Homo sapiens: one gene and its partner. The protein of the gene in region 1 purifies or fractionates together with the protein of each later gene. This does not show direct contact. Each region holds a gene or a part of one and is shown in the gene's direction. Other genes may lie near its edges.

The links. The genes of interacting proteins can lie anywhere in the genome.
Region 2: the proteins of GPATCH3 (region 1) and PAXBP1 purify together in Homo sapiens (affinity purification with mass spectrometry; one large-scale study listed by BioGRID and IntAct). This does not show direct contact.

Annotation. Positions count from the first base shown.
Region 1 is NC_000001.11:26,897,122-26,902,679, reverse strand, and holds the start of GPATCH3 (G patch domain-containing protein 3), read left to right. Parts: upstream 1-2,212; 5' UTR 2,213-2,237; coding exon 2,238-2,688; intron 2,689-4,954; coding exon 4,955-5,379; intron 5,380-5,558. UniProt on the Homo sapiens protein: Involved in transcriptional regulation. It is able to activate transcription from the CXCR4 promoter and therefore it might control neural crest cell migration involved in ocular and craniofacial development.
Region 2 is NC_000021.9:32,758,027-32,762,434, reverse strand, and holds part of PAXBP1 (PAX3- and PAX7-binding protein 1), read left to right. Parts: intron 1-117; coding exon 118-339; intron 340-1,272; coding exon 1,273-1,376; intron 1,377-2,440; coding exon 2,441-2,658; intron 2,659-3,165; coding exon 3,166-3,355; intron 3,356-3,746; exon of another isoform or gene 3,747-4,408. UniProt on the Homo sapiens protein: Adapter protein linking the transcription factors PAX3 and PAX7 to the histone methylation machinery and involved in myogenesis.

The DNA of each region.
Region 1 (5,558 bases):
CTCTTGGGCTCAAGTGATCCTCCGACCTCAACCTCCCGACGTGCTAAGATTACAGGTGTGAGTTACCACACCCTGCCAGGAGAGATTTTATTTGAAAGGATTATTGCAAGGGAAGAAAGGAACTATTGCAATAGAAGGAGGAAGAATATTGCAGCAGGGAGGACCCTCTGACCATAATATCTGCAAGTGACTCAAGGGTTAGGCAAAAAGGGTTCTTCTCTCATACAGAGGAGTAAACAGGGCAGAACTGGGTGGGAGGAAGTGGGATGATCAGGAGTGGCATGATGGGACAGTAGATCAGATAATGCTTTACCTTGAAGCCAGCCTATTCTCAGGAGAGGCTGTTAAGGAGGAGATGTGCGCTGGCTCAAGCTGAGGGTAAGCCAAAGTTCGGGAAGCTGGGGGAAGGAGAGAAGTTTTAACCAAAGTTTGTTCCAACTGATCAGTGGGGACAAGAAGTTCCTCAAAGCTTTCATGAGGAGATTTGGAATATGGAGTCTGTGTCTGGCTTTGTCATTGGTGAACCAGAGGGGCATACACCAGTCTTACCTAACTCACTTGGGGAAGGATGTTTTTTTGCAATATGCTGTGTTCCAGAACACAAAACAGTGGGAAGGCATTTCTTAAGCCTTAGTTTTCCAGGATCACAGGGCTTGGGTAAAAGTCAACATTATCAATAAGTCTTCTGATAAACATGTGCAGTCATTTTTTTTATTGTTTAGACAAGGGTCTTGCCAACTTGGCCAGGCTGGTCTCAAACTTCTAAGCTCAAGGGATCCTCCTACACCAGCTTGCCAAAGTGCTGGGATTACAGGCGTGAACCACTGAGCTTGGCCCTTTATTTTTTGCTTTTGTTTGAGGTCTCTCAATCTACAGGTTCCTCCTATCACCCAGTATAATGTGTAGACTTTGTCTGAATTATGAATCAATGAATCAATAGTAATCAAATAACCCAATTAAAAAACGTACAAAGAGGGCCGGGTGCGGTGGCTTACATCTGTAATCTCAGCACTTTGGGAGGCCAAGGCGGGTGGATCACCTGAGGTCAGGAGTTCGAGACCAGCCTGACCAATATGGTGAAACCCCGTCTCTACTAAAAATACAAAAATTAGCCGGGCGTGGTGGCACGCACCTGTAGTCCCAGCTACTCGGGAGGCTGAGACAGGAGAATTGCTTGAACCCGGGAGGCGGAGGTTGCAGTGAGCCGAGATCGCACCATTGCACTCCAGCCTGGATGACAGAGCGAGGCTCCATCTCAAAAAAAAAAAAAAAAAAAAAAAAAGACAAAAAGGCGGGGACCGTGGCTCACACCTGTAATCCTAACACTTTGGGAGGCTGAGGCCAGTGGATCACTTGAGCCCTGGAGTTCAATACCAGCCTGGGCAATGCAGTGAGACCCCATCTCTACAAATAGTTTAAAAAATTAGCCAGGCATAGTGGGTTGCATCTGTGGTCCCAGCACTCCAGCCTGGGCGACAGAGCGAGACCCCAACTCAAAAATAAATAAAATATTACCTACAAGTGCTGAGTCAAATGATGTGTAGCTTTGCTTTTACTAGATAACGCCAATTGTTTCCCAAAGTGGTTGTATCAACTTACATTTCCACCAACAGTGTATGAGAGCTTCAGTTCCACCATGTTGTCATCGACTCTAAGGTTTTAAAGTTTGCCAACATAGTGGATGCAAAGTGGGTCTCGCTGCATTTCTTTTATTATTGAGTTGTGCATCTTTTCTTTAACGTAAGCCTCTAGTAACTCATAGCACTTTCATTGTAAATTGGACCTGCGTGTTTCCTCTTTTGCGAAGTATCTTCGGCCCATTTTTCTACCGGGTTATCTTTTTCTTACCGATTTGTGGGAGTTCATCAACACATTTTGGAAAAATAAATGGAAGAACGACTAAAGGTTCAGAACTGAGGAAGGTTGAGATTAGGTGTGCAATATCCACAACTAAATACCTCAAAAATGACCCCTCCCGCAGGCTTCTTATTTGGTCCTCATGAGAGCTTTATGAAAGAACTCTATGACCCCATTTTCCAGGTGAGTTTTTCCATCATCGCCGGCTTCCCTCTGTGGGAAAGGAACACAGAAGACTTCGGATCTTCCAGCTCCAGGTTCCACAACCCCAATCCCAAAGGACTAGTTAGAATTTTCACAATCTCGCAACGCAGGGGCTGGAACGTTGCTCGCGGTGTTCTCGCGAGACTTGGTTCTAGCTGATCATGTGACAATCCAAGATGGCGGTGCCCGGCGAGGCGGAGGAGGAGGCGACAGTTTACCTGGTAGTGAGCGGTATCCCCTCCGTGTTGCGCTCGGCCCATTTACGGAGCTATTTTAGCCAGTTCCGAGAAGAGCGCGGCGGTGGCTTCCTCTGTTTCCACTACCGGCATCGGCCTGAGCGGGCCCCTCCGCAGGCCGCTCCTAACTCTGCCCTAATTCCTACCGACCCAGCCGCTGAGGGCCAGCTTCTCTCTCAGACTTCGGCCACCGATGTCCGGCCTCTCTCCACTCGAGACTCTACTCCAATCCAGACCCGCACCTGCTGCTGCGTCATCTCGGTAAGGGGGTTGGCTCAAGCTCAGAGGCTTATTCGCATGTACTCGGGCCGCCGGTGGCTGGATTCTCACGGGACTTGGCTACCGGGTCGCTGTCTCATCCGCAGACTTCGGCTACCTACGGAGGCATCAGGTAAGAGTGAGAAAGTTAATAGACTGGGCCTACGGGCCTGGAACAGAGGCACCTTTTCAGAGGAGTGGTGAGGATAAGTCAGGCCTCTGGTTAGGACTCTATGAGTTTAGTTCATATTCTAGACAGAGCTTCAGGCTCAACTTGCAGGGAGTTAGTCCAATACATGGAGAAAAATAAACCGGAGAGGCTTATTCGGAAGAGCCTTCATTTTGTTAGGTCCCTTTTGAGACCCTTTCTCTATCCAAGGGGTTGATTTTGCACTAACACAGAAAGAAAAAAGGAAATCCAGTCTCTAACCCTTTTACTGTCTTTCTCTCCTGCTCTCTCTGTGCTTCCTACCCAGTCCTTTCAGTAAGATACAAATGAAGAGACAATCTTTTCTCTGGACAGCTCCCACTTTCATGGGAAATCAGTTTGATGGGGAAACAGGACAGTGCAGAGCCCTCCAGTTCACACATTCAACAAATGCTTACATTGCTAGACCTAGTGTGACTAGCTGGGTATGCAGAGAACAGTTGGACATAGTGTGTGCTCAGAATCCACAAAGGAAGACATTTGGAAAAAGGTTATTGCCACAGAGATGTCATTCTAATTGTTAGCATTCACTGAGCACTCTGTATTTAGTAGGCGCTGTTCTAAGCCTTTTGTTTTCTTACCCCTCTCAACAGTCCTATGAGATAGGAGCTGTTGTTTCTCCCATTTCATAGGTGAAGAAACTGAGGGAAGCCGAAGTTATGTGACTTGCCTGAGGTTACAGAGTTAGTTAGTGTCAGAGCTACAACAAACCTAGGCATCTGTTCCAGAGCCTATACTGTTTATCACCAAGTGCTGTGAGATGACAGAGAAGGGAGAAACTAACTTCCTAGATGGATCATGAAATGTGGCTTTCCATCTGGGTCTTGAAAAATAAATAGGAGTTAATAGGAGAGAATGGTGTTTCTGGGTTTCAGGGTAAATGGCGTTTGCAAAGACACAGCTTTGAAAGCCCGTGAAAAACTTTCAGGGCATGTTAAATTGTTCATTGTGGGCTGGGTTGCAATGGCTCGTGCCTGTAATCCCAGCACTTTGGGAGGCACAGGTGGGTGGATCTCTTGAGCTCAGGAGTTCCATACCAGCCTGGGCAACATGGTGAAACCCTGTCTCTACCAAAAATACAAATTAGCCGGTTGTGGTGGCGCATGCCTGTAGTCCCAGCTACTTGTGAGGTTGAGGTGGGGGGATCACTTGAGCCCAGGAGGTGGAGGTTGCAATGAGTCAAGATCGCGCCACTGTACTCCAGCCTGGGTGACAGAACGAGACCCCATCTCAAAAAAAAAAAAAGAAGAAAAAAAAGAAATTAGGAGAAAAATTGTTTGGTGTGGCTGGAACACATCGTATGAAGACATGCAGGAGGTGGGAGTTGGTGACAGCCGAGAATCAAAAGGTCATCAGGTGGGTAGATATCACTTGAGGCCAGGACCAGCCTGGACAACATGGCGTAACCCTGTCTGTACTAGAAATACAAAAATCAGCCAGGCATGGTGGCACATGCCTGTAATCCCAGCTACTTGGGAAGCTGAAGTATGAGAATCACTTGAACCCGGGAGGCGGAGGTTGCGGTGAGCTGAGATTGCACCACTGCATACGCCAGTCTGGGTGACAGAGTGAGAATCTGTCTCAAAAAAAAGAAAAAAAAAGTTCATCAGGAGCCAGAGCTGGAAGAAACTTGTATGCCCAGCCAAGGTGATGAGAAGTGACATGAAACTACTAGGTAGTTCTGTAGTTCCGCTTGGGGAGAGATGAAAAGACCTGGAGAAGTTTGAGAGGGAGGAACAGCATGAGGCTAATGGATTTATTTTATTATTTATTTATTTATTTTTGAGACAGGGTACTCTGTCGCCCGAGATGAAGTGCAGTGGTGCAATCTTGGCTCACTACAGCCTCACCTCCCAGGCTCAAGCAATCCTCCTGCTTCAGCCTCCCAAGGAGCTGGGATCACAGGGTGCACCACCACTCCCAGCTAATTTTTTTATATTTTGTAGAGATAAGGGTCTCACCATTTTGCCCAGGCTGGTCTTGAACTCCTGAGCTCAAGCAATCCTCCTGCCTCAGCCTCCCAAAGTGCTGGGATCACAAGCGTGAGCCACTGTGTCGGCCTAGATTTTTACTAGGGATTTACTAGATGTTTACTAGGGAAAGGCTAACAGATTTAAACATTGGCCAATTTCTGGCTCAAGTGTTGCTGGAGGCTTCTGGGTTTCAAGATCTATTCTCCCTCCTTTCCAAGGTCTGGGCTCCTTTCCCTTCAAGACCCGGAAGGAACTGCAGAGTTGGAAGGCAGAGAATGAAGCCTTCACCCTGGCTGACCTGAAGCAACTGCCGGAGCTGAACCCACCAGTGCTGATGCCCAGAGGGAATGTGGGGACTCCCCTGCGGGTCTTTTTGGAGTTGATCCGGGCCTGCCGCCTACCCCCTCGGATCATCACCCAGCTGCAGCTCCAGTTCCCCAAGACAGGTTCCTCCCGGCGCTACGGCAATGTGCCTTTTGAGTATGAGGACTCAGAGACTGTGGAGCAGGAAGAGCTTGTGTATACAGCAGAGGGTGAAGAAATACCCCAAGGAACCTACCTGGCAGATATACCAGCCAGCCCCTGTGGAGAGCCTGAGGAAGAAGTGGGGAAGGAAGAGGAAGAAGAGTCTCACTCAGATGAGGTGAGTACAGTGTGCTACCCTGTCCTTGCTGGCAGCTGAAAGAGGCCGAAGGCATTAATAATACCACTCTTCAATTGTCTATTACAAGGGTTCTTAACCTGGGGTCCTCAGGAGGGTTCCAAGGAGTCCAAGAAGGAATGTAAAACTATATTTGCATGTGTGTTTCTGTATTTCTGTAG
Region 2 (4,408 bases), on another chromosome or scaffold:
CAGCAGCTGAAACATCACTGTGATGAGGCTATCTTGGATTATTTTACCCTTCATATTTTCAAGAAAATAGAAACTTTGCATCTCTCATACTGCCATATTCTTACCATTTGTTTCTAGGAGAAATTCCAGATGCAGCTTTTATACATGCTGCAAGGAAAAAGCGCCAAATGGCCCGAGAATTGGGAGATTTCACTCCTCATGATAATGAGCCTGGTAAAGGCCGCCTTGTTAGAGAAGATGAGAATGATGCCAGTGATGATGAAGATGACGATGAGAAACGCCGGATAGTTTTTTCTGTGAAAGAAAAGTCACAAAGACAAAAAATTGCTGAGGAAATAGGTAACTTGATTTAATTGAATAGTAAGCCTATTGCATTGCCTTTTTTTGTTTGTTTTAAGGCAGGGTGTCATTCCATCACTTAGGCCAGAGTGCAGTGGTACAATCATAGCTCACTGCAGTGTCTTGACTCGTGGACTCAAACAGTCACCCTTGTCTCAGCCTCTCGAGTAGCTGGGACTACAGGTGTGCGTCACCACACCTGGCTAATTTTTTTATTTTTAATTTTTTTGTAGTTATGGGGTCTCACTGTGTCTGGTGTCTTAACTCTTGGCTTCAAGAGATCCTCCTGCCTTGGCCTCCCGAAGTGCTGGGATTACAGGCATGAGCCACCATGCCTCAGCCTCCCAAAGTGCTGGGATTACAGGCATGGGCCACCATGCCTCAGCCTCCCAAAGTGCTGAGATTACAGGCATGAGCCACCATGCATGGCCTCTAATGCTATTAAATGTGATTTGATATTATAGTCAAGTAAAAAGTATTTAGACTTACTAAATTTTATGTTAGAGGACTATTCTTGGGTACAAGTGTTTTATTGGAATTTTTAAAAACTAATATCATTGTGATAACTCATGTTCATTGAACATTTATTGTGCAGCTGGTATTGTGCTTAGCAGTTTACATGCGTAAATTCATATAGTTCTATATTCCTAGGAGGCATTAGATTTTGTTCCCTTTGTTGATGTCAAGTTTACAGAGATTAAGAAACACATCCAAGATTTTAACTATTACATTAATACTGCCTTTAGCTTCAAGGAATACTGTGTTTAAAACAGGCAAAGTCAGGACTACCAAATGAGAGAGGAGATCATATTAGACATTTTAGTAAGATTGAGTTAATAGTTTTGCTCAGTTCTTGTGAAATGTCAGGACAGCATCTTTTACCTCTTTGCTCTTTGGGTGTTACTTACTTTTCTTTGTTGCTCATGGCTGTAGGAATTGAGGGGAGTGATGATGATGCTTTAGTAACTGGAGAACAGGATGAAGAGCTCAGCCGATGGGAACAGGAGCAGATAAGGAAAGGAATTAATATCCCTCAGGTACGACAAAAGAATTAAACTAAAAATTAAAAGTAGATTAAAAAGCCTTTTTTATTTTGTTAAAGTAAAAAATTCCGTATTGAATCTTTGTCATTCATTTCAAGTAACAAAATCCCATGAGGAGACACACACACACACACACACACACACACACACGCACGCACGCACACAGAGACACGTAGGCTTTTAGAAGAAACTGCAGTGTGTTCGGCTTTTTGCAGTCAGAATGATGGAGGAATTTCCAATTTCTTAGATGAGTTTTTCTCAAAGTGGTCCTTCAGTTAGCATTAGCATTACCCGGTAGCTCATTAGAAACGCAAATTACCAAATTATCAGCCCCCAGAGACCTACAGAGTCAGAAGCTTGGGGTGGTGGGGCCAGCAATCTTTGTTGAACAAGCCCTCCAGGTGATTCTGATGCACACTAAAGTTTGAGAACCATTGCTTTAAATGGAATGTTTTTGTGCGTGTAGCTTATTTTTTTGGACTTTAAGAATTATTTTGAAGAAGATGGATTTCTCAATAATACAAAAAACTTGAGATCGATGAAAAATATCTTCCCAGTTATAACAATTTGTTTTATAAAAGTAAGTAATACAGTGAGAAAAATTGCATAAACGTAAACCTATTTTTGTTAATAGTGTTTTGAGGCAGAATTCGCATACATTTGGGTGAAGTTAAGAAAATGGCACAATAGAGAAAGTCTTGGACTGGATGTCAGGAGTCTTAGATTCTAATCTCTGGTTGCCCATTGATTCTGTGACCATGGGCAAGGCATTTATCCTCTTTCATTGATCAAAGGTGGCCTTAAATGATTTTTGATGTTTCTTCCAACTCTGAACTCTGTTTTTCTGAAAATTATTAGAAATAAATTTAGTGATTCCACCAAGAGATAGGACATTCATTCAATCCTGCTTTTATCTAATTTTGAAGAATTCTGCAATTATTACATAATATTTGGCAAATAGGTATAATTTTTGCTGTTGATTTTTTAACCCTAAAGGCATATTATTATTTTCAAAGTTTTAACTACCAGATTTCATCTATATCCCATTTCTTTTCTAGGTTCAAGCCAGTCAACCCGCAGAAGTGAATATGTACTACCAGAACACTTACCAGACAATGCCTTACGGCTCATCCTATGGCATTCCTTATAGTTATACGGCCTATGGATCATCAGATGCCAAATCTCAAAAAACAGATAATACAGTCCCTTTCAAAACTCCCAGTAATGAGATGACTCCCGTTACTATTGATTTGGTAAAGAAACAGCTTAAAGACAGGTAGGGCAGATCAACTTCTTAAAGACCTGTCCGCTAGCTTTCTGTTCCCTCAGGCAACATGTAGTCTGGGGTAGCAGATGCAGAATATCAGCAAAGAAGATTCACTGGCCCAGCTTCAAAAGCTAAACAGAAGATGACTTCATACTTTGTTCTGCTACCTTCTTGGATTACTTCTGTGGAAGCCTCGAAAAATTATAAAAAATGCCACTCCATGATCTTGTTGAAGACATTTCTGAGTTTGTACCTCTTGGACTCTGAAAAAGTGTAGTCACGCTATGGGGGGAAAAGCAAAACAGTGAGATTTTGGTTAGCCCACAAAACTGTGAAATCTGTAAACTGCCATTTTTTGTTTTTTGAGAAAAAAAGCAGTACAGAGGAAAAGATGCCATTCCAAATATTTTTATGTTCTAATAGTGGAGCTAAATGCATATTTTAATATTGCAAGAGTCCTGACACCATAGACCTTTGGATGTAAATGTGTTATATTTATCCTTTTGTGTTCCTAAGGTTGGACTCCATGAAAGAATTGCACAAAACAAATCGACAGCAGCATGAGAAACATCTGCAAAGCCGAGTGGACTCTACCAGGGCTATTGAAAGATTAGAAGGGTCTTCTGGGGGTATTGGTGAACGGTATAAATTTTTGCAAGAAATGCGAGGGTATGTCCAAGACTTGCTTGAGTGTTTCAGTGAAAAGGTAAGAATGCAAAAATACTAATCTCTTTGAATAAGGCAAAATTAGGGAGGTCTAGATGGCCTTGTGTAGAACATTCTATAATTCTCAGAAAGTACCCACTGAACTCAACATTAGAAGTGATGAAAAGTCATGCTTCATTTTTCTTCACTTCATTAGTGGCATTATCTCTTAAGGGCAATATAATACCTTTGTTGAAAACAGAAATAAAGATAATATCTTAAAGCACATTTAAATAAGACTTTGGAAAGTCTTATTTCAATATGGTGGTAGATTATTATTGGCCTGTGCTGAATTCTTAGAATATAAGGGACTCATCTGATAAAATTTTCTTTTCTGGTTCAGGTTTAAACTTATTTTTAAACGTTTCTACAAGCAATTCTAAATATGCATATAAAGTTGCAAATTTTTATTAGTTTTTTTTTTTTTTTTTTTTTTACCCTGGATGATGATTACCATTGTTGCTAATAGTTTTTATCTAAGTAAGCCTATGCTTGATTTCTTTCAGAAACCATTTCATTGGATATCATTTTTTCTAAGGTTTCATTTCTCCCAAGTTTGTTTTTTTCAATAGGATAGTCAGTTGACAAAATGTTTGGCATTCTTATACTATTTATTGTTTACATTTAAAATTAGGTGCAAACAGCTAGTTTCTCAAATGACCTCCTAATTGATTTTTTTTCTTTAAGATAAAAGTATTGGTTGAGGCACTGGTTTATAAGCATTTGTGGACTTTGCAGCCTTATCTTTAAAAAAAAAAAAATTAAAACTGTGGTCCTTAAATATCCTGTCTGAACTTTGGATTGGAAGGCACATTTCCCTTTGTTATTGGCTATGTAGATTAGCTTAGAATCTGTAAGCATATAGTGTGGTTAAATATGTATTTCAACTTTTGTTATCTTTGTTGATTACTTGAATACCCTAAAACCAATGGCTGGGAAAAGATCATTGCCAGACTATGTCTTCCTGATGGATCTTTCTTCCTGATGGGTCTTAATGGTTCCAGTCAGTCTGTGGCCAGATTCAGGATGAGATAACATTCACCATGTCCTCTCT